Linked DNA regions of Homo sapiens: region 2 is linked to region 1. Evidence: fine-mapped expression QTL. A gene starts in region 1. The other region holds a variant in brackets. All regions are shown on one strand. Distances are between the middles of the regions. Region 1 holds the start of LYSMD4 (LysM domain containing 4). Region 2 has its middle 200 kb from the start of LYSMD4.

Region 1 (10,155 bases):
GCATATAAGTCTTGTTCTCTGATGAAGTTGTTGACTTTCTTGATATCTGCAACCTAGGAAGGCACGAAGATAAACATCATAAAATATGCGGAGCTCCTTAAAAATAACTTTCCAAAAAGTGGCTCTTAATCTTTCTGGGTGATGATTCAAGCCCACTTCACTGACGAATCTGATGAAGACTGGAAAACTGCAGCTGTACACAAAGTTAGTTTAGGCTGAAATTTTGTTTTTTTGGCTTTCACTCAACCTCAATATATAGTTTAGTAATCAGATATTCCTAAAGATTTACAGGTTTGAACAATTTAAGATCAGTTTTGAAAAACAGATCTTTCTTAAACTGTTTAAAGTGTGACTGCAACAAATCGCTTTGGGCGAAACCACCATGGCACTGAAAGGAATGTTGCAGCCTTTTCCACCTTTCACTTTTGAGGCAATAGTGCCCCCATCTGCCTGCCTTCCCCCTCATGCCAGAACTCAGTGGCTGCCAGATGTTAGCATTCACCAAACACACAGCCTCAGCCAGCTCTGCAGACACACTCAAAATCCAGTTTACCTGTAATAAAGTTGACAGATATGCCCTCGGCATTTTCTTTCCCAGAAACACTGTGGGGCATGTAAACTTATTAAATAAAAGTGACTTACAGTTACTGTACTTAACTGTCAGGAAAAAGGAATAATGCTGTGAGTTTTATCAAGTAACAAAGTTCATGACAAACTCCTCTCATAATCAAACACGAAGATTTAAGAAGCAGGGAGAATGTAAGTCAAAGGGTAACCCCTCCCTCAAACTAATGTTTGAAAACTTTCCAAAAGCATCAGAGATGAACTCCAAACTTTTAACACTTAAGTCCACTTAAACTAGAAAGTGAATACAGCCAACAGATCTCAATCAAATCAATCATTTCCATTATTATTCAGCAACTGCTGTTATTGTAACTGATTTGGGGTAGGGGACATTTTTAATTCACTATGTCCTGAATCTAATGCATGAGACCCTTGAGATCTTTCTGTCTCTGCCTTCAATAAATTAAGAGCAAATTTATTTACTTCAAATAGGAAAACTGATCACTTATCAAAGGCTTTATATATTCTTTACGGATTTAGACATCACCATACCAAGAAGCCTACTCCATCTATTCCGGTCTTTGTAGGACAGGCTTCATTTTTCAGCCCATGTTCTGTAAGCCACACAGTATGCCTGCAGAAGCTGCTTATCGGAGCCAAATATAATTGTCAGTACAATTTAAAGACCACTATGTGTCCCCGGAGACCAACCTGTTTATTTCCCTGAAAGACCGCAACACCCCACACAACATGTTTCAGACATTTGGACCTTGTTAGATAAGACACTTGTAGGAGAAAGAGATTTCTTAAATTAAGTAGCTTATATACCCCTAGAGAAGGCCATACAAATCTGTAGCACAGTGTTAGCAAAGTGAAACAGTTGCAATCTAGGAGAAAATGCAGCAATTCTAGAAATACTTTCCTACTTACTTTGCCATTGTTAATCACTCTGAATGCTGAAAACATAATTAGAGAAAAACAGGGTTATATAGATACACAGCATACAAAAGACCATGCAGTTCTAAACGAGAGAAGGTAAAACTTTACCAAAAGTCAAGTAAGCTACCACCAAGAAAGGTTCAGAAAAATAAGAGCAGCGAGAAAAGCAAGCATACCATAGAAATCCGGAATTAAATTCTGCCTGGTATCTCCAGCCCCATTAGGTCTAAAATAAAATGTGCTCGAAAGAAGAAAAAAGGTTTCAGAATTTCAGTGTGGAGAAAACAGGAAAAGGAGAAGTTCCCTGCAGAGAAAGAAATGCGCTAACCCTCCCTCTTTGGGGGCCAGGGTTGGGAACTAAAGGTACTCCCACCTGCATTCCAATTCTGGCTAAATAGGGGAGTCCTTGGCTGCTACAGCAGGCCTCTCCTGACGGCCTGGCAGGGTTAAGAAGGGCGGCAAGGGCACCCACCCTGCAGTGAGTTCCCCGTGTTCCTTGAAACGGAGCGGGGCAGGGCCCCTGAGGGGTGTCTTACTTTGCAGCCATACTGCAGCGCCAGCTTGTTGAGGCTGTCCTCCTGGGCCAGCTCCCGCTGCAGCAGCACCACGTCACCTGCTCCCGCCTGGGGAGGCTGGTGGACACCGCTCTTGTGGCGCTCCTTGCCCCGGGGCCGCAAAACCACACGGTGAGACTCTTCTTCAGAAGAGTCCCCCGAGTCCCCACTGCCATTCTTAAACATGTATACGTGGCTGGTCGGAGTCCCACACACAACAGCTGGGCCTTGGAAGGTCTTGGTTAACAATTCCTCGTGCCTCATTTTCTTCACTGAAAATCAAGCCGGAGGGTTAATTCCACAGAAGACATAATCATCCCTCCACCGCCTCGTTTAAAGAGAAGTGTCTTGTTAGAGAGTATTCCTTTTCCTAATCGCTGCAAATACTCAGCATACATCATCAACAGAAAAAAAAGAATGTGCTTATGCTGGCTGAGATGGAAGAAGATAGGCAGAATAAAAACCCTTTGTTTTTTCTAATCGCATACGTTTTGTGCAGAAAACGAACCCCGCCCCTGTTCCTCATCCATAGCTGTCTCCCCTAAACCCACATCTGTAAAGAAACAACTACTTTTGCTCTCAGAGTAGTAAGTTGAGATCCTTGCAATGGCAAGTAAGGGCTGCCGCCAGCCTCCGCGCACTCAGAATCTTCAACTCAGAAGCTTTGCACAATAATTTTGTATTCAATATTTTACACATTGCAAAGTATCTTCACTAAGAAGGTCAGCGCTAAGGACTCTTGCTCAGAACTGTGGGGCTAAACTGCTCTTACTTTGACACAGTTTAACTCACAGTATGTGGGGCAAGCTACGGGGAGAACTCATGCCTGTCAGCCGGAGAAAAGCGTCCAGTTTGCTCACGGGTCACTTTGCATTCATTACATCCCCATTGTCTGGTTTTTATTTTCCCCTTGAGTCAACAGCCAAAGCCGCAAGACCCCTGTTCCTCTCTCCAGATTGTTCGCGTGAGATTCCAGAAACGAAATCTCAAACACGCGGGCTGACAACTTCAGAAAAAGGTGGCTTCGGAGCCACAGGGGAGCAGCCCGTACGGGGACAGCCTGCGGCCCCAGCTCGACCCCCTACTCCCCGCCCACGCCTTCGAGGGTCACAGGCCCACACCCCGCTCCGCGCGCTCCTGAGCCTGCCCGGAGGCGGGAGGCGGCCGGCGGTCCTCGGGGGGTTGAGGGTCACCTGCAGGACCACGGCGGCAGCCCGGGGACGGGGCCAGCCTTCGCGTCCGAGCTCAGGGGCGGCGGCAGCAGCTCCAGGCCCGCTTCCCTCCAAGTCCCTTCTGCGAAAAGATGGGGCACCTCAACAAGAGCTGACAGGAAAATGGGGAGCGGCCCGGCCCCAGGGCTCCACGGCTCCACGGGCGGGGCCCTAACATTCCAGAGGGCAGAACCTCTGACCTCTGACCCCCAACCCTAGCCACCTGGGGCCAGCCCACGACAGTCGCGGTCACCGCCCCTCCAGCTGGAGCGTCCCCCTAGGAGCCCGGGGAGGGGCGGCCCGCCCGCGAACCCTCGAGCGAGGCCAGGTCGCCGTACCGCCATGAGCCCGCGCGGCTCCCTAGCCAGACCGCGGCCCCCTCGTCCAGGCCCCGGTACCTCAGCGCCCAGGCTCCGCCGCGACCGGCGACCGGCGACTCGCGACCCGCGACCCGCGACCCGCAGCTGCCACCGCGCCTGCGGATTGGCTACGAACATCAGCAGGGCCCCCCTGGGGGCGGGACTGGGGAGGCAGCCAATGAAGTCAGCGCTGGGCGGGCACTGGAGCGAGCCTGGCTGCGCGGAGAGCTCATCCCGGGACCACAGGGCCCGGGGCGGGGCTCGGGGCGGGGCTCGGGGCGGGGCTCGACAGGGTTCCACACCCCGGAAGTGGCCCTCGCCCCGCCCACCCGCCTACCAGGTCTACCCGCGCGGGCCCTGGCTTGTTTTCGCGTCTGTTCGGAGTAATAAGGCACCTCAGCTCCTCCCTCCCAAAGTGCTTGGCTTTCTGCTGAGCCGCAGCTTTCTCGCCCGTAAAGAGGCCTTTGACCCCACTTGTGGGTAATGATCTGTAGCTGTGACTCGGGGTGGATTCCAGTAGCGTGGGGTCCCCTGAGCCCTCCTGCGGGGAAGGGCTGGGCGCAGATGGGCGAGGGGTCTTTCTGCGGCGGGATCTGCGCTCCTGGGCCTTTGAGGGCCGCACCAGGGGAGGCATTGCCCCACCCCGAGAAGAAAACAGAAATCCACGAGTGTAAAACATGGATGCGGACAACAGGGACCAAGAAAACTTAAGTCGTGTTTATCAAATGTCAGGTGGCCGAGGATTTCTTAAGATGAAAAGTGGTGGAAGAATTCTCACACACTGGCCGGGCGCGGTGGCTCACGCCCGTAATCCCAGCACTTTGGGAGGCCGAGGCTGGTGGATCACGAGGTCAGGAGTTCGAGACCAGCCTGGCCAAGATGGTGAAACCCCGTCTCTACTAAAAAAATAAAAATAAAAAAAAATAAAAAAGTTAGCCGGGCATGGTGGCGGGCGCCTGTAATCCCAGCTACTCAGGAGGCTGAGACAGAGGATTGCTTGAACCCGGAGGCGGAGGTTGCAGTGAGCCGAGATCGTGCCACTGCACTCCAGCCTGGGCAACAGAGGGAGACTCCATCTCAAAAAAAAACAAAAACAAAAACCTCACACACTAAGGCACAAAGTTCAGAGCTTCTACTTAAAAAGGAAAACCAAAATTAAAAAGCAGATAACCTAGGGAAAATAAACTGAACACAACAAAGGATTAAAATCCTTCGCTGAGAGAGACTTCATATGAATAGGAAAGATGCTAAGACCTCAGCAGGTCTGAGGGAGACCTCAGAGAGACAGGAGCAGATAATTCAGCAAACAATGCAAATGGTCAACAGGTTGAAAATGTTTTTAACCCTCACTTGCAATCAGATTAAACAACAAAGCAAACATTAAAACAAGATCTCACAAACCTTTTCCCACTAATAGGATTTGACTGTGTCCACACCCAAAACTCATCTTGAATTGTAGCTCCCACAGTTTCCACCTGTTGTGGGAGGGACCTGGTGGGAGGTGATTGAATCATGGGAGCAGGTGTTTTCTGTGCTGTTCTCCAGATAGCGAATGAGTCTCACTAGATTTGATGGTTTTATAAAGGGAAGTTGCCCTGCACAAGTTCTTTTCTTCTATCTGCTGCCATGTGAGATGCACCTTTCACCTTCAGCCATTATTGTGAGGCCTCCCCAGCCAGGTGGAACTGTGAGTCCATTAAACCTCTTTCTTTTGCCCAGTCTCGGGTATGTGTTTATCAGCAGGATGAAAACGGACTAATACACCCACTTAAACTAAAAGTCAAATTGTTAATCTTCGTGGACAAAGCCCAAAATGGTCTGGACTCCAGGACTTACCCTCCCCTAACCCCCAGGGTTCTCAAGACTCTGGCCTTGGAATGAGAGTGACATCATCAGCTTCCCTGGTTCTGATGTTTTTGGACCTGCACTGAACCATATTATCTGCATCCCAGGGTCTCCAGCTTGCAGACCCACCTGTCCCGGGACTTTCAGTCTCCTTAATTGTGTGAGCCAAGTCTAATCTCCTCTCTCTCACTCACTCACTTTGTGTCTCTCTCTATAGGTAGAAATAGATATATAGATAGATAGACAGATATCTCCTATTGGTAGGTAGGTAGGTAGATAGATAGATAGATAGATAGATAGATAGATAGATAGATAGATTAGATAGCTCCTATCAGTTCTGTCTCTCTGGAGGACTTGACTCTGTATCTGTAGATAGGTAGATATCTCCTATCGGTTCTGTCTCTCTGGAGGACCTGACTCTGTATCTGTAGATAGATAGGTATCTCCTATTGGTTCTGTCTCTCTGGAGAACCTAATACAGGCTTCAAGGCTCCTTCTCTCAAGCTGCTTGCATTACTGGACTGTCTGAGCCTCAGGCCTCAAAGTAAGTCATCTTCTCAGTGAGTTCTCCCCTGTCCAGCGGGTATATGTAGGTGCTCCCTTAGTGCTCTGTGAGAACACGGTTTCTTCATAGTACTTCCTAGTTCATTTACTTGTCATTTATTGCCAGAATACTACTGTCCCCATACAACTTCCAAGGCCCAGCTGAGTGGCGGCGTCTAGAGGTGCTCATTCAATGTGGGCTCATTAGGAGAGCTGTTCTGATGACCTGACCCAGGATACGGGAAGGCAAACTAAAATTAAAAAGCATATTATCTGGGGAAAATAAATGCATCCCGACAAAGGATTAAAATCCTGAGTTGAGAGCACCAAAATCCAAATCCTAGTGTGTCTATTCCAGAGGCCTGGCTCTCAGCCACCAGCTGTACTTCGGGCCCAAGGCACCTGGCCATGGCCCGGTGGGTTTGGCAAATCCAGGAGTCAGAATTTCAAAGTGTGACTAATGGCAAGAAAAGTCACAACAGAATTTGTAAAGCTGGATTAGTATTGCTGCTTTCTGATCAGTTATGGTTGTTTCATTCATTCAGTGTGTCCAGTACAAAATAAATCCAGACTTAGGATAAAGTTTATTCCAAAAGATTATTGCAAGGTGGTGGGAGGGACTATTGCAATGGGGAGAACTTCTGACCATAAGCTCTGTAACATCTCAAGAGTTAGACAGAAAGTTCTCCTTTCACAGCGAAGTAACAAAGCTAGAAAGAGCACGGTATGGGGAAGCGGGATGAAAGGGTGGTGGGATCTGGTAGTAGATCAGAGAATGTTCTACCCTGGGGTCAGCCAAGTCTCAGGAAGAGCTTATGCTGGCTCAGGTTGTGGTGGAGTCAAGGTTTATTCAGTGGGCTAGGGGAAGAGAGAAGCCTAATCAAAGTTTGGTTAGCAAGCATTTTGTTCCAATTGATTACTGGGGTCAAGCAGTTTCACTAATTATTTATGAGATAAAAGGAATTTGGAGGGTCTGGGGCTGGCCTTGTCATAGGTAAACCAGGGTGGCATTTGTGGGTCTTACCTAAGTCATATGGAGAAGGGAGTTCTTTGTAGTAGGTGTTTTCCAGAAGACAAAGGGTGGAGGAATTTCTTAAACCCCACTGTTTTCCAGGAGCACAAGGTTTGGGTAGAGTTCAGCACTGTCAAGCTTATGTCTGTGGCACTCCTTCCGTGTGCTGGGGCACAGTGGCGGACAAAGCTATAAGGTCAACTTTGATTGGCTGTATAAGGCTGATAAGGCCTCATAGCCTTACAATTGCCAGAAGGAAGATGGAAAATCAAAGACATACACAGAAAAGGTCATTACAGATGGTGCAAGATCTTCCAAAGAAACAAGGTCATGCATGTGAGCAAAAATTATATAAACTTTGTAAAGGCAAAAGAATGGCTGTGTCCTTTCAAGGTCATATGAGGACTTGGCCGGCTGGACTGCCCAGGAATTAAGTGATTGTCAAGGCAGCAGTTCTCCAAGTGTGTTCTAGGGATCCCGGAGTCTGTGATGTCCAAACGATGTTCATAGTAATGCCAACATTATTTGCCTTTTGCATTTCACTTTCTCCTGATGTACAATAATTTAGCTAATGTTTATTGAGTCCTTACTGAGTACAACACCCGTGTGAGGTGGGAACTATTATAATCCTCAACTTACAGTTGGAAAAACTCACTAGGGGAGAAATTGCAAGTTTGCCACCTAATATCAATTCTCATCTTTTCCTTTAGAAAGAGAACCCCAACATTATTGGGGGCATCAGCATGCCAAGCCAAGACCACATATCAGCCCTCCTTGCAGTGGGTTGTACGCATGTGAATAAGTTCTAGACAATGAGGTCAAAGAAGAAAATGTGAGCGGGACTACTGAAGAAGTCCTTAAAAGGGGGAGATCTGGAAAAGCTCTGAAATGTGAGTGCCTTTTTTTTATTCTCCCTGCCTCTCTGCTGCCTGGAATAAAGATGTGATGGCCAGAGCACATGCAGTCATCTTGGACCATGAGGTGGAATCCATGTACTAAGTAAGGATGGCAGAGCAGAATGGTGGATGGGGTGTAAAAGAGAAATAAATGTCCTCATGTTTAAGATGCTGTTAGGATCTCTATCACTAGCAGCTGAATAAATTCCTAATTTATATGCTTATGCACAAAGATGAAGTTACTTGCTCAAGATGTCATAGCTAGTAAGTACAGGAGACAGGATAAAACCCCAGACTGTGGCTCCATAGCCCCAATCTTGTGAAAACTTCTGAGCAGAGCCCATTTTTGCTTTCACTGCTGACTCAGCCCCACCCAGGAAGCCTGTTCACCTGGTCAACATTTTCCCCAGAAACATCCCCAAGTTCTCTCCCCAGGCCTTGGCTTGACTGGCTGAGTTATAGTATCTCTGGCCTGAGTTTCCTGAGGCCAGATGAGAAGTGTTAAGAGTGACATGACTTGTCTACTGAAGTGTGCCAAGGTCATGTCCACCAAGGACTCCACTACTGTGGCCCCAAGAAAGCTGGGACTAAACCTGCACAAGCAGACATGCCGCCCAGGTGCCAAAGCTGTGTCACCTCATGCCTGTGCCCGACCTCCCTTGGAGCCCTAGCAAGGGTAGGGAGAGAAGAAAAGTAGCAGGTGCTCACTGAGTGGCTGGCTTTCACAAAATGTGTCAAAAATCCAGTGGGTGGAGAGCAGAGAACTGTGTTATCAAAGTCATTAGAATTTCTTAAGCTACAACTGCTCATTTTATAGAGAGGAATTTAAGACCCAGAGACGTGAGGGGACCTGCCTGAGGCTGCACAGCAGGTTAGCACGTTGGGAGATGAGGTGAGTCCAAAGCCAGCTCTGCATTCAGTGGCTGTGTGACCTTGACTGAGTCCTGTAAGCCTTCTGGACTTTGGTTTTCCACTGCCACTGTGTTGTTCCCTATGCTTGGGGTGACCATACATTCTTTCTGTCCAAAACAATCCCAGAGCATGCCTATCGTCACAGCACAATTATTAGAAACACTCCTTCCCTCCTCGTAGTGTCTGGACACACCCTACACCTCTCTGTGTGACAGTGATATGGTTTGGCTCTGTGTCCCCACCAAAATATCTTGTTGAATTGTCATTCCCAGTGTTGGGGAAGGGATCTGTTAGGAGGTGATTGGATCATGGGGGCGGATTTCCCCCATGCTCTTTTCATGATAGTGAGTGAGTTGTCATGAGATCTGGTGGTTTAAATGTGTGTGTGATGTTTTAAATATTCCCCTCACTCTCTCTCTCCTGCTGCCATATGAAGAAGGTGCTTGCTTCACCTTCTGCCATGTTTGTAAGTTTCCTGAGGCCTCCCAGTCATGCTTCCTGTTAAGCCTTCAGAACTGTGAGTCAATTATACCTCTTTTCTTCATAAATTACCCAGTCGAAGGTAGCTCTTTATAGCAGTGTAAGAACGGACTAATAGACAATTTGCCCATGGACTGTGTACCTGGCACCTGCTCCCCACGGACCCCCCAGCAGACTTTGCCAGTTCATTGCAGAGGCCCAGATGGCCGTCAGTATCCAAGACAGCCATGACCAATCAAGCAATATTGTCAGGGGAGGGGAAACTGATTTGCCATCCCTGCTCTGCAGTATCTAGTAGTCTGGATTTGGTTCCTTAAGTTGTGGGTTCTCTAATGACTCAGGAAAATCCACTGGTTATTGCCAGTGTGGAATTTGCATTTCCATGAAATAGAAAGAAGAAAACTTCCTGACTTCTGCTTGTTGTCAAGTGACTGTGAGAAGTGAAGCCCTTGGAAGAAACATGGCTATGAGTGTGAGAGCTCATAGCTCCAGAGATATTGCCAACTTCAGGAATTCATGAGAAAGTAGTAGAAAGAAGAAAACAGGAAATGTATTGCATTTGGTACGGCAAAAACAATTATTGAAAGTTTAACAGGCTTATGACAAATGGGGTAAAAATGTTTGCCATCTTTGATACATTGATATCCTTAATATATAAAAGGCATACAGATCTCAATAAAAAAGCACTTTATAGAAAAATAACCAAATGATGCAAAAATTCACTAAAGAAATACATATAGGAAAAAACTGTTAACTTTACAGATAGTCAAGTAAATGGAAATTCAAAAAACTACAAGATATTCATTGTCACCTACAGACTTGGAAAAAGTCGAACCTAAA
Region 2 (12,521 bases), 200 kb after region 1:
TCACTTGTTTGCTTGCCAATGATGTCAAGATTTTCTGTTGTTCTTGAGGGAGAGCTGTTCTGATTCACTCAGTCTACCATTACCAAGCATGGAACCTATTTCATGACAGTTTGTTTCTTCATGTGTTTTGTGACTTTTGATTATAAAATCATGTTCCTAGTCACTATCTTTGAGAAATCGTTAAGGCCTCAGCTTAAACCTTTTGGAGAGAACTTATATTTGCTTATGCTAGATGCCAGGAAGCACAGTCAACTTCAGATCACTTTAAACTAAAATTTCTGGCTGAGAGCAGTGGCTCATGCCTGTAATCTCAGCACTTCGGGAGGCTGAGGCAGGTGGATCACCTGAAGTCAGGAGTTTGAGATTAGCCTGGCTAACATGGTGAAACCCCATCTCTACTAAAAATACAAAACTTAGCCGGGCATGTTGGTGGGTGGCAGTAATTCCAGCTACTTGGGAGACTGAGGCAGGAGAATTGCTTGAACCTGGGAGGTGGAGGTTGCAGTGAGCCAATGCGCTCTAGCCTGGGTGACAGAGCGAGACTCCGTCTCAGAAAACAAACAAACCCAGGCCGGGCACGGTGGCTTACACCTATAATCCCAGCACTTTGGGAGGCTGAGGCGGGGAGATCACGAGGTCAGGAGACTGAGACCATCCTGGCTAACATGGTGAAACCCCGTCTCTACTAAAAATACAAAAAAATTAGCCGGGCATGGTGGCGGGCGTCTGTAGTCCCAGCTACTCGGGAGGCTGAGGCAGGAGAATGGTGTGAACCCGGGAGGCAGAGCTTGCAGTGAGCCGAGATCACGCCACTGCACTCCAGCCTGGGTGACACAGTGAGACTCCATCTCAAAAAACAAACAAAAAACACCAAACCCAAAACTTTCTATTTGCGAGGGGGCTTCAATTTTCACAAAAAGTGTAGATTCTTGCCCTCTTCCTAGTCAAATAGGGACAGATGGTTAGGAATGTGTTAGGGGAATGTTTTATTTCTTTGCTTCTGTGCTCACCCACTGAAGGTATTGAGTTCTGGGATTTCTGACTTTATGCAGGGGTCTCTGGTCAGAACTCTTCCTCCAGCCCAGCTCCCCTCTTACTTTGGTCATTTGTACCCAGCATAGTTCAGTGTAACTGTGGTTCTAGGCGACTGGAAACCAGCAGAAGCCTTCAGGACAAAATTCAGCTCACTCATACAGGATTTTGATTCCAATGGAATTTCTGCCCTCTCATTGTTTTCCTTATTTTATTGCTATCTCAGTAGAACTTTAAATAAATAAATAAAGCTAAAATTATTTTATTTGCCATTTTTATATGTAATGATCTCGGAGGGATTCTTGAACAGATGTGGTCTACAGTCTACAGCTAACATGTAGCTGCCTGCTTTCACTGTGTTCACTCTTCAGATTAATAAAATGAAAAGCAATGCTGATAATAGTGGTTTCTTTTCTTTCTGCTTTCTCCAGTAATTAGCTTATGGGGGACACTCAGAGGACAGGATTTAGGATCAGCAGACCTGGGTCTGCCTCCCATCTCCACTGCTAAGAGTTGAATCAGTCCATGCAGGCCACTCCCCATCCTCAGCCTTTTCTTCTGTCAAATGAACAATATAATCCCCTAGTTTTAGGGAATTTTGAGGAATACATCAGATTACCAAATCGTGAGTTCCTTGAGCTGATAAAGAGTGAGCACTTACTGTGTGTAAGGCAACTTTCCTAAGTGCTAGGGATACAAAAGTGAACAAAACACACAAAAAATGTGTCTGTGTGTGTGTGGGGGTTGGTGTGGATGTCCACAGGCATACATGTGTGGTAGCAGACAATAATATAAGAAAAATAAAGTAAAATATATAGTGTTTTAGGTGGTAGTAATTCCTATGTCAAACAACAGCGCCGACGAAGTAGAGGGGATAGGAATGCGTGTGTATGCCTGTGTGGGCACGTTCGCTACCTCTGCATCCCAGGCACCTAGACACGATCTGGCTCAGAGGGGAAGCTCAAAGAATGTTTGATGGATGAATTAACACTCATAGGACACTTACTACCATGCCTGGCGAATAACAGTAGCTTTTGGTTTTAGAATGGATGCAGTTGCTATTGGGCTCCCCTCTTTATGTCCAGTTGATGCAAGTAGGTTAGGGGGTCTCTAGAGGCTCACAAAGCTGTGCTTGGCTCAGAAGTTATCCAGATAAAAACTAGTATAGGAATCCAACTCCCCTCCTCCCTCCATCTTTCACCCCTGCAAATCTGGTGAGCTCCATGAAGCTTTCCTCCCCAGGTGACGTTGTTGCTGCTGTACTTAAGGGACAGCACAGGCCACCTGGGTGTGGGACAGAGCTGACACCTTCCTGTCTGGGCTCTTCCAGCCTTCACTCTAGAACGAAGCGGGAAGCCTCAGGTCCAAGGGGAGAGCCGCCGCAAAGGCCGCGTTGAACGCCGAGGTGCACGCGCAGGTACTGGCTAAGTGCGCGCCAGGGTGCTCGGGAGGGGGCGGGTGCGGGCCGCACTGCCGGGCGGGGTGCGCGAGTGAGGAGGGCGGGGTGCGCGAGAGAGGAGGGCGGGGTGCGCGAGTGAGGAGGGCGGGGTGCGCGAGTGAGGAGGGCGGGGTGCGCGAGTGAGGAGGGCGGGGGAGTGCGCGAGTGAGGAGGGCGGGGTGCGCGAGTGAGGAGGGCGGGGTGCGCGAGTGAGGAGGGCGGGGTGCGCGAGTGAGGAGGGCGGGGTGCGCGAGTGAGGAGGGCGGGGGAGTGCGCGAGTGAGGAGGGCGGGGGAGTGCGCGAGTGAGGAGGGCGGGGTGCGCGAGTGAGGAGGGAGGGGTGCGCGAGTGAGGAGGGCGGGGGAGTGCGCGAGTGAGGAGGGCGGGGGAGTGCGCGAGTGAGGAGGGCGGGGGAGTGCGCGAGTGAGGAGGGCGGGGGAGTGCGCGAGTGAGGAGGGCGGGGGAGTGCGCGAGTGAGGAGGGCGGGGGAGTGCGCGAGTGAGGAGGGAGGGGTGCGCGAGTGAGGAGGGCGGGGGAGTGCGCGAGAGAGGAGGGCGGGGTGCGCGAGTGAGGAGGGCGGGGGAGTGCGCGAGTGAGGAGGGCGGGGTGCGCGAGTGAGGAGGGCGGGGGAGTGCGCGAGTGAGGAGGGCGGGGGAGTGCGCGAGTGAGGAGGGCGGGGGAGTGCGCGAGTGAGGAGGGCGGGGGAGTGCGCGAGTGAGGAGGGAGGGGTGCGCGAGTGAGGAGGGCGGGGGAGTGCGCGAGTGAGGAGGGCGGGGGAGTGCGCGAGTGAGGAGGGCGGGGTGCGCGAGAGAGGAGGGCGGGGTGCGCGAGTGAGGAGGGCGGGGGAGTGCGCGAGTGAGGAGGGCGGGGTGCGCGAGTGAGGAGGGCGGGGGAGTGCGCGAGTGAGGAGGGCGGGGGAGTGCGCGAGTGAGGAGGGCGGGGTGCGCGAGTGAGGAGGGCGGGGGAGTGCGCGAGTGAGGAGGGCGGGGGAGTGCGCGAGTGAGGAGGGCGGGGTGCGCGAGTGAGGAGGGCGGGGGAGTGCGCGAGTGAGGAGGGCGGGGGAGTGCGCGAGTGAGGAGGGCGGGGTGCGCGAGAGAGGAGGGCGGGGTGCGCGAGTGAGGAGGGCGGGGGAGTGCGCGAGTGAGGAGGGCGGGGTGCGCGAGAGAGGAGGGCGGGGTGCGCGAGTGAGGAGGGCGGGGGAGTGCGCGAGTGAGGAGGGCGGGGTGCGCGAGTGAGGAGGGCGGGGGAGTGCGCGAGTGAGGAGGGCGGGGTGCGCGAGTGAGGAGGGCGGGGTGCGCGAGTGAGGAGGGCGGGGGAGTGCGCGAGTGAGGAGGGCGGGGGAGTGCGCGAGTGAGGAGGGCGGGGGAGTGCGCGAGTGAGGAGGGCGGGGGAGTGCGCGAGTGAGGAGGGAGGGGTGCGCGAGTGAGGAGGGCGGGGGAGTGCGCGAGTGAGGAGGGCGGGGTGCGCGAGTGAGGAGGGCGGGGTGCGCGAGAGAGGAGGGCGGGGTGCGCGAGTGAGGAGGGCGGGGGAGTGCGCGAGTGAGGAGGGCGGGGTGCGCGAGAGAGGAGGGCGGGGTGCGCGAGTGAGGAGGGCGGGGGAGTGCGCGAGTGAGGAGGGCGGGGTGCGCGAGTGAGGAGGGCGGGGGAGTGCGCGAGTGAGGAGGGCGGGGGAGTGCGCGAGTGAGGAGGGCGGGGGAGTGCGCGAGTGAGGAGGGCGGGGGAGTGCGCGAGTGAGGAGGGAGGGGTGCGCGAGTGAGGAGGGCGGGGGAGTGCGCGAGTGAGGAGGGCGGGGGAGTGCGCGAGTGAGGAGGGCGGGGGAGTGCGCGAGTGAGGAGGGCGGGGGAGTGCGCGAGTGAGGAGGGCGGGGTGCGCGAGTGAGGAGGGCGGGGTGCGCGAGTGAGGAGGGCGGGGTGCGCGAGTGAGGAGGGCGGGGTGCGCGAGTGAGGAGGGCGGGGGAGTGCGCGAGTGAGGAGGGCGGGGGAGTGCGCGAGTGAGGAGGGCGGGGGAGTGCGCGAGTGAGGAGGGCGGGGTGCGCGAGTGAGGAGGGCGGGGTGCGCGAGTGAGGAGGGCGGGGTGCGCGAGTGAGGAGGGCGGGGTGCGCGAGCGAGGGCGTCCGGCCGGCAGGTGGCACTGTGGCGTCGCCGTGGGCCGAGCCTGGCGAAGCGCTGCTCGCCCGAGATCGCGCAGCTTGGTGAGTGGCAGCGCCTGGCTTTATACTCGCGTCTCGGACACCGATGGTCATCTTCCCACGTCCGTGACTCAGTGGCCTTCCAATGCAGGCTGCGGCCTCTCAGCCCAGAAGGCCCTGGGTTCTGGTACAGGCCTTCCTTGTGGCAGACGGAAGGAAGGCTGACAAAGGGAGTTCACCGGGTTTGCCTGACTTGCCACGCTCTTCTCTCTCCGTGCCAACTTTAACCTGGGAAGCCACACATACCTCTAGGGCCTCTGATATCTTCAGTGTCCCCAAGGCCCATGCTGCTCAGAGCCTCACGTGGCCGCAAACCCAGGTGCCAGTACTTGAGAGTTGCACCTTGAGCGGGAACTGCAGAGGGTTTTAATGGCACCAGCTCCAAACATTTCGCCCACAGCGTCTGCAGTCCTCCACTGCGGAAGGCAGAATAAACGCCCCAAGGGTGTCCACATCCTACTCCCCAGAGCCTGTGAATTTGTCCCCTTACATGGCAAAAGGGAATTACAGTTGCGGATGGAATTAAGGTAGATTAATTGCACACACAGACAGAAACACGCATTTTTGTGTGTTTTGTTCACTGTCGTATCCCTAGCACTTAGGAAAGTTGCCTTACACACAGTAAGTGCTCAGTTAATCTTTATTGACTCAAGGAACTCACAGTTTAGTAATCCGATTTATTCCTCAAAATTCCCTAAAACTAGGGGATTATATTCTCCATCTGACAGAAGAAAAGGCTGAGGATGGGGAGCTTAATGGGTAAGGAGATTAGCCTGGGTCACCCAGGTGGGCCCAATGCAATCACCTGTCCTTATAAGGAAGAGAGGCGAGAGAAAGAAAGAGAGAGAACAGAGAACAGAGAAGGCCGACAGCACCAGGAGGTCTCAGCCCGGTTTTTCTGGCTTTGGGGATGGAGGACGGGCCACGGAACAGGGCGGCCTCTGCCTAGCAGCTGGAAAAGGTAAGGGACTAGGTTCTCCCAACGAACCTCCGGAAAGAAACGCAGCCCTGCCAGCAGCTTCATTTCAGCTCAGTGAGACCTCTTTTTACTCTTTCGACCTCCAGGACTGTAAGATCATAAACGTGTGTTGTTGGAAGCCAGCAAGTTTGTGGTAATTTGTCACAGCAGTCGTGGGCCCACTAAGACACCTGTCGTGGGCCTCGTGTCCAGAGGCCTCAGCTGAAATGCACTGGGGGCCTGGTGGTGTGTGTTAGGTCCACTTGGCTTGCTGTGTTGTTCAAGTCCTCTCATTTCCTTTCTTATCTTCTGTCTGGTTGTTCTTTCCATTATTGAAAGTGGGGGACTGAGGTCTCCGACGATTATTGTAGAACTACTTTTCCCTCCAATTCGCTCCCTTTCTGCTTTGCATATTCTGTTAAGTGCTAAATGTTTATAACTACTTATTCTTGCTGTATTGAATCTCTTCTCAATATATAATGTTCTTTGTCTCTTGTAACCTTGGACAAGATACAGACTACTTAGACTATTGAAAATCCTGACAGTGTATTTGAAACATGCACGTGGACATGGTTTTATTTTTCTCAGTTACTGCTTTCAACTGTGTGCTGATTGAAACTCCTTTCCCCTGGATAGAAGACCTATTAAAATAACCCAACTTTATTCACTAACTTGTCAACTACTTTTGGTCAGTCAGAATTTTGTCTTTGGCCAGAGTTAATCAGCTAACCCGTTGTCCCCAGATCATCAGTGCAGCTTCACCTGGGTACTTCTTATAAATGCAAATTCTCAGGCCCTGCCCCAGAAACTCTGGAGGTGGCCCTGCAGTCTGTGTTTAAGAAGCCCTCCAGGGGATCCTCAGGTGTGATAAACTTTGAGAATCAGCGGTAACCCATCTGCAGAGGTATTTCTATTATTTCAGTAATTATATTTTTAAAATTTTACTTTCTGGAAATACTTTTTAAAATTTACCTATTTTTTCATGTATCTTGATTCTTTTTTTCTGTTTTTATTTCTCATTTTAGGTCTTTAGTAATTTTAAGCCAATTTATCTTGTAGGCTCTGTTTTGATCATTCTACTGGCTTTCCATCCCTGAAGTTTATTGACTTGGAGTTGCCAGTGTTTTGTAATTTGGGATTGTGAGCTGGTCTTAATGGGGACTTCATCTATTGGAATCTTCTGTACCTTACATGAGAGTGGGTGCCTCCAGAGTGCTTTTGGGTTTGCTTCAGCCAGGTGCTTGGCGTTATCACCAGCCCAGGACTGCTTTGCATACCAATGTTTTGACCTGGGGATTTTCTGGCCCATGCATGTCATATACAGCCTAATCCCATCACATGAGTATGGGCCTGTGATGACAAATTGATAGGAGAATCATTTTCCCTACT[C/T]AGAGCCCAGGCCAGGTCTAATATCCCTGACATAACTGCCAGTGGGGGAACTTTCTCTAGATGATGATTACTGAGAGTGCATCCTGCCCTTGAAGGACCCCTCATTTATGAGTGTTGTGGGGCAGGTCCAAGGCTTCCTCTCCAATTCCTCACAGCATTAAAACCCAAGTCCCTAGGCCAGGGATGGTGGCACACGCCTGTAATCCTGGCACTTTGGGAGGCCAAGTTGGGTGGATCACATGAGGCCAGGAGTTCAAGACCAGCCTGGTCAACATGGCAAAACCCCATTTCTACTAAAAATAAATATAAAAACTAGCCAGGCATAGTGATGCACATCTGTAATCCCAGCTACTCGGGAGGCTGAAGCATGAGAATCACTTGAACCCGGGAGGTGGAGGTTGCAGTGAGCTGAGATTGTGCCACTGCACTCCAACCTGGGTGGCAGAGTGAGACTCTGTCTCGAAAAGCAAAACAAAACAATCCAAGCCCCTGAGTTAGTGAGAGGATGCCAGCCCTGGTGGGTGGGGAGATCATGAAGTTGTATACCTAATTGTTGGTTCCCAGTTCATCTTTTGGCCTTTACTTTCTGTTGAACTCTGCATTTAGAGTCTGTTCTATTGCACCAAGCAATTCTGAGCATATTGCGGTGGGTGTTGCCTTTCAGGTTACCTAGTTTCTCATATTGCTGTAAATAGAAGTCCCCTGATAGCTCATTTTGAAACGTCAATCTCTCTTCCCTTCTCCACCTAGTGCAGGCTAAACCTAGTGTTTCCATAGATGGAGAGTGGGGTAGGGGCAGTTGCACATGACTCTCCTGCTTCTTGGCACTTGCTGTTCTAATGTTGGGGTCAGGAAGAGGGGCTGGCAAGGCATGACTGTGGTGAGCTCTCCTCTTGCTTTTCGGGTGGTAACTGCTGGTCCAGCTTATTGTCCACAGCTCTGCATAGGTAGGAGGTGACCAGAAACCCTAGGCATGATGAGGTTCAGCTGCCCCTGTGGACCCCCAGATGGTGGCCTCATGGTGCGTTCTGGTGCACAGGCCTTCTGCTCCATGACGTGACCCCGTAGCCCCGGTCTCCTCTGCCGTTCAGGGCCTTCAGCCTGGGCCCTAGACACGCATGCCACATCCATCTTCTCCCCTCTTGGAACCCGAGGACTCAAAGCTCTACTGGCATCCCCTCTCCTCTGTCCTCATTTCCTGTTTCCCTGGCTACAGGAACACCTGACGATGCCCATTTGCAGCAAACCAACCATGGCTCAGAATTCCTCCAAGCTCAGTCATGCTCTGAGGGCATGTGAAAAGAATGCCCTGCAGAGGAGGAGAGATTTGTTTGTGGCCTTGATGTCATTTGAGATTCTGAGTGTCCAACTGGGGAAATCAACGTTTCCAGGTGGAAACAAAGGGGGCTGCAGAAAGCTGCCCACCCAAGCCAAGGGTCCCTGTTTTGCTGAGTCTAGCGAGGGACTTCCTGTCCCCACTGCTCCACTCCCTCCTCCAGCCCAACTCTCCCTGAGGCAGATGGCAGCAGAGAGAGGAGCAGGGGTTTCCAGGTCAGGCGAGAGTCCTCAGTGGGAGCCTGCTGGGAGGTGGTTTTCTGCCTGAAAGCAGAAGTGGTGGTGTGACAGTCCGTGGACACCAGAGTAGGGACAGAAAAATTGTCTCAGACCCCATCTACAATAAAAATGTATACAAAGGCCTCCCATCCTAGGGGCAGGTATGTGCCTAGAAAGTACCCCTTCTGGCTCTGCCAACAGCTGTACCAGCTTCATTTGCTGGAGGTGAAGAGGCGGCCACATGACCCTGGACTGGCCGGCGTGGTGGGGTCGGCACGCAGGTCTTGACTGCAGCAAGTTCTATGTGTTTGTGCACAATTAGCCAGATAGCCTCTCCTCTGGGGAACCAGTTCATTCCAAGCCAAGAGTAGATGAGTGGGCCCTGTGCCAGGGAGACAAATGACTGGTGACACCGTGGTGTTTCACTGAAGCTCTGCTGGGGGACCCATCACAGCCTCTGCCTGAGCTGCTGGCTTTCAAGTGCCCTGGGGCTGAGCCCTGGGAATATCCTTGTTTATCTGCAGTTGCTGGCCTGGCTCCTCTTCCCCTTTCTCTATTCCTCCCTCTCTTCTCTGGGGAGCAAGCGGCCCACCCCCACCCCTGTACCACTGGGTCCTGAATGTCCAAAAAGCCAAGGAGGTTCTGGCCTCAACTCAGCCTCTCCTTGAGGCAAATCACCTCACTTGGGAGTGGGGGTTCTTCAACTTTACACATCCCGGTTACCCAGGGGGCGTGGTGAGCATCGGATGAAAAACTGGGAGGGGGAACTTGAATGCTGCTTCTGAACGCGTATCCGGGGTGAGAGCTCATCTCCCTCCTGGATCCTGTCTTCCTGCACCAAATTGCCAAGGCCAATGCTCTGCCCCTTGGGTAGGCCAGTCCACCCCCCTTCCTGTCCACCCACCCCAGATGCCAAGTCTGTGGTGGGGTGGCCCATGCTGGGGCATGAGAAGTTTGGGGGATGAGGAGGAGAACCATATCCACCAGGGAGGACCCGGGGTGAGGAAAAGATGAGACAGGATGACACTCAGGAGAGGCCGCCTTTCAGGAGATGGACCTCAGAACGATGGCTTTTCCTTGATAACTCTAGACCTTGAGCTACACTGGCCTCTCTCTGAGCCTGCGCCAGCCACAGGGATGTGAAGGTTGAGATATTCCATACGTGGTTGGCTGACAGGTAGCTGAGTACAGCCATTGTAGAGGGGGATCTCGCTCTGCTTAGTGACATTGATACCTGTATCATTCAAGTGCTAGACATTTTGTTCCTGGGCATATGTCCCAAAGACTTGCACACAAAGCGACCGAGAAGTGATTTACCACAGTATTGTTTGGGGACAGTGGAGTTAGAGGCTGGCATCCATCACTGGGGAATGGGTGAGTAAAATGAGATTGTCACATGGATGACCCACAGCCACAAACAGGGTGGACACCCATCACTGTGGCTACAGCCTTAAAAATAGCGTGAGTGAGAAAAGTAAGAAGCAGGACAAAATCTCTAACACTGCATCATTTGTAGGAACCTGAAAATACATACCTATCAATCAACTTGTCAGGTTTCTCAAGTGTGCGGAGAAAAAGAAAGATAAACATTAAATGCAACAGTAGGGATGAATGTGCAAAGGTGGGAGTGGAGAATTGGGATAAAGAGGAATAAAGTAAAGCACAGTAGGAGCAGGACCTCACATGGAGAAATTGTGCTAGCACACCATGAACTGAGCAACTGGTTGACTCTGCCCCTGAAGGAAAAGGAGCAGTTAAAGCCCTAAAGAAGTGAATGTCAGCTGCAGAGAAGGGATACGCACTATTCATCACTAAAGCATGGGCAAAACTGTGATCACAGGGCCAGCCCCTCCCTCTGCTCCCATCCACACCAACAGCACCAACTGTTGGCTAGGTCTAGAGCAGAACTCTTCCCCTTTGCCTTCTAAGAACAGACTCTGAGACGTGGTGACTGCTCCAGGGCAACCTCCCTCTTCCCAAATGACACCAGAGGATCTCTTTGAGTGGTGAAGGCTCAGCATCTTCATTAGCTCTCCGATTTAGAGATGGCCAAGCTAAAATCTACAGCACCTAGCTCAGTGCCTGGCAGAAAGTTGATCCTCAAATGATGGATGGATGAATGACCATACCTGCTTGGCAGCTGCTTAGCTTTGGTTGGGCCAGAGAAGAATCAGTCAAATGATCCCTATGGTGTGCTGAACACTGCAAAGTTGCCAGAATAAGACCCTGTGCTTGCTCTTGAGGTGTTTGCCTAGTGTTTCTCAACTAGGTTACATATGTCGTGGTCCCAAAACTTGTCTTGGCCATCTAGTATGTGCTGGGCTTTTGCTACCAGTTGGGGTAAAGAAATGAGTACAATGGGTCCTAGATACAGACATAAAACAGATAACCTGCAATATGAGGAGTGACTGAGATACGCCAAGAGTGTGGGGAGTGCAGGGAATGTAACTGGCAGGCAGTGGACCTAATGAGTGAGTCCTGAAGGTGTCAATAGCCCAAAAAACAAAATTATGAGTTAGGAAGATTTGTTCTTTTCAACTGCATATGAAAATATTTGCCAAAGAGGATCTCTACAAGTTTGAGCAGTAGCTGGTTTCTTTTTTCTTTTTCTTTCTCTCTCCCCTCGACCTTCCTTCATGGGTGATTTGGGACAGAGACAATGCCATGGGCTCACCAAATCATATTTCACTTTCCTCTCCCTGGGCACATTGGAAGACTTTTCCAGCATGACTTGTAATTAAATTGGAGCTATATGACCATAGTTTGGCCATTGTGGTGCAGGAGGAAGTAAGGTGTACAACTTTCAAGCCAGCTATAACCTCCCTTGAACCATCATCCATTCTCTCTTGCCTTTCCACAGTGACCTCAGTGGGTATATATTTACATGGCAATGTCACAAGATGAAGCTTGGATCCCAAAGTCACCACTCAGAGAAATTGCCCAGGAGAGCTAGTCAGCCAGCACTGGGTGTGATATGAGTCACTGAGATGTGGGTTTATTTGTTCCTGCAGCAAAGCCTGTTATATCCTTACTAATATGCTAGGTACACTGCTTTCCAAAGTAGCTATTTTGAGGAACCACAGCTCTTCTTAAAAAATTATGCCAATTTTATTTATTTATTTATTTGAGACAGGGTCTTGCTATGTTCCCAAGGCTGGGTTGCAGTAGCTATTCATGGATGTGATCATGGATCACTGCAGCCTGGAATTCCTGGGCTCAAGCAATCCTTTTGCCTCAGCCTCTTAAGTAGCTAGGACTGTAGGCATGTGCCACTAAATTTATTTTATTTCTTAACAGCTTTATTGAAATATAATTTACATACCATACTATTGACCCATTCAGAGTGTACAATTCAGTGGTTTTTGGCATATTCAAATTTATACCACCATTACCAGTCAATTTTATAACATTTTAGTCACCCCTAAAAGGAAACTCCATCCTTATTAGCACCCAATTCTATACCCTACTACTAGGCAACAACTAATCTTCTTTCTGTCTCTATAGATTTGCCTGTTCTGTATATTTCATATAAATGGAAGCATAAAACATATGGTCTTTGTGACTGGTTTCTTTCACTCTTATCATGTGAATGAACCTTAAAATGTTTTTCTTTCTTTCTCTCATTATTATTTTGAGACAAGGTCTCAGTCTGTCACACAGGCTGGAGTGCAATGGCGCAATCTCGGCTCACTACAACCTCTGCCTCCTGGGTTCAAGCAATTGCCTCATTCTCCCGAGTAGCTGGGATTACAGGTGCACACCACCCCACCTGGCTAATTTTTTGTTTTGTTTTGTTTTGTTTTTTGTAGAGATGGAGTTTCACCATGTTGGTCAGGCTGGTCTTGAACTCCTGATCTCATGTGATCCACCGGCCTCGGCCTCCCAAAGTGCTAGGATTACAGGCACGAGCCACCATGCCCGGCCTTGTTCTGTCATTATTATAAGCATCCTAGTGTGTGTGAAG

The links. PIP is the estimated chance that this variant, and not a neighbour inherited with it, causes the effect.
Region 2: its variant is fine-mapped to the expression of LYSMD4 in whole blood (TOPMed, PIP above 0.99).

The regions. Positions count from the first base shown.
Region 1 is chr15:99,729,679-99,739,833 of GRCh38, forward strand. It overlaps LYSMD4 (LysM domain containing 4), which reads right to left and starts at 3,759. Exons shown (of 3, transcript NM_001284417.2): 1 at 3,667-3,759; 2 at 2,040-2,329; 3 at 1-53. The coding sequence starts at 2,321. RefSeq lists silencers at 3,209-3,318, 3,359-4,088.
Region 2 is chr15:99,923,900-99,936,420 of GRCh38, forward strand. No RefSeq gene overlaps it. Among named protein-coding and RNA genes, the nearest start is that of LYSMD4, 200 kb to the left of the region's middle. RefSeq lists an enhancer at 4,465-4,759 and a silencer at 4,481-4,540. The variant C/T (reference allele first, on the strand shown) is at 7,004.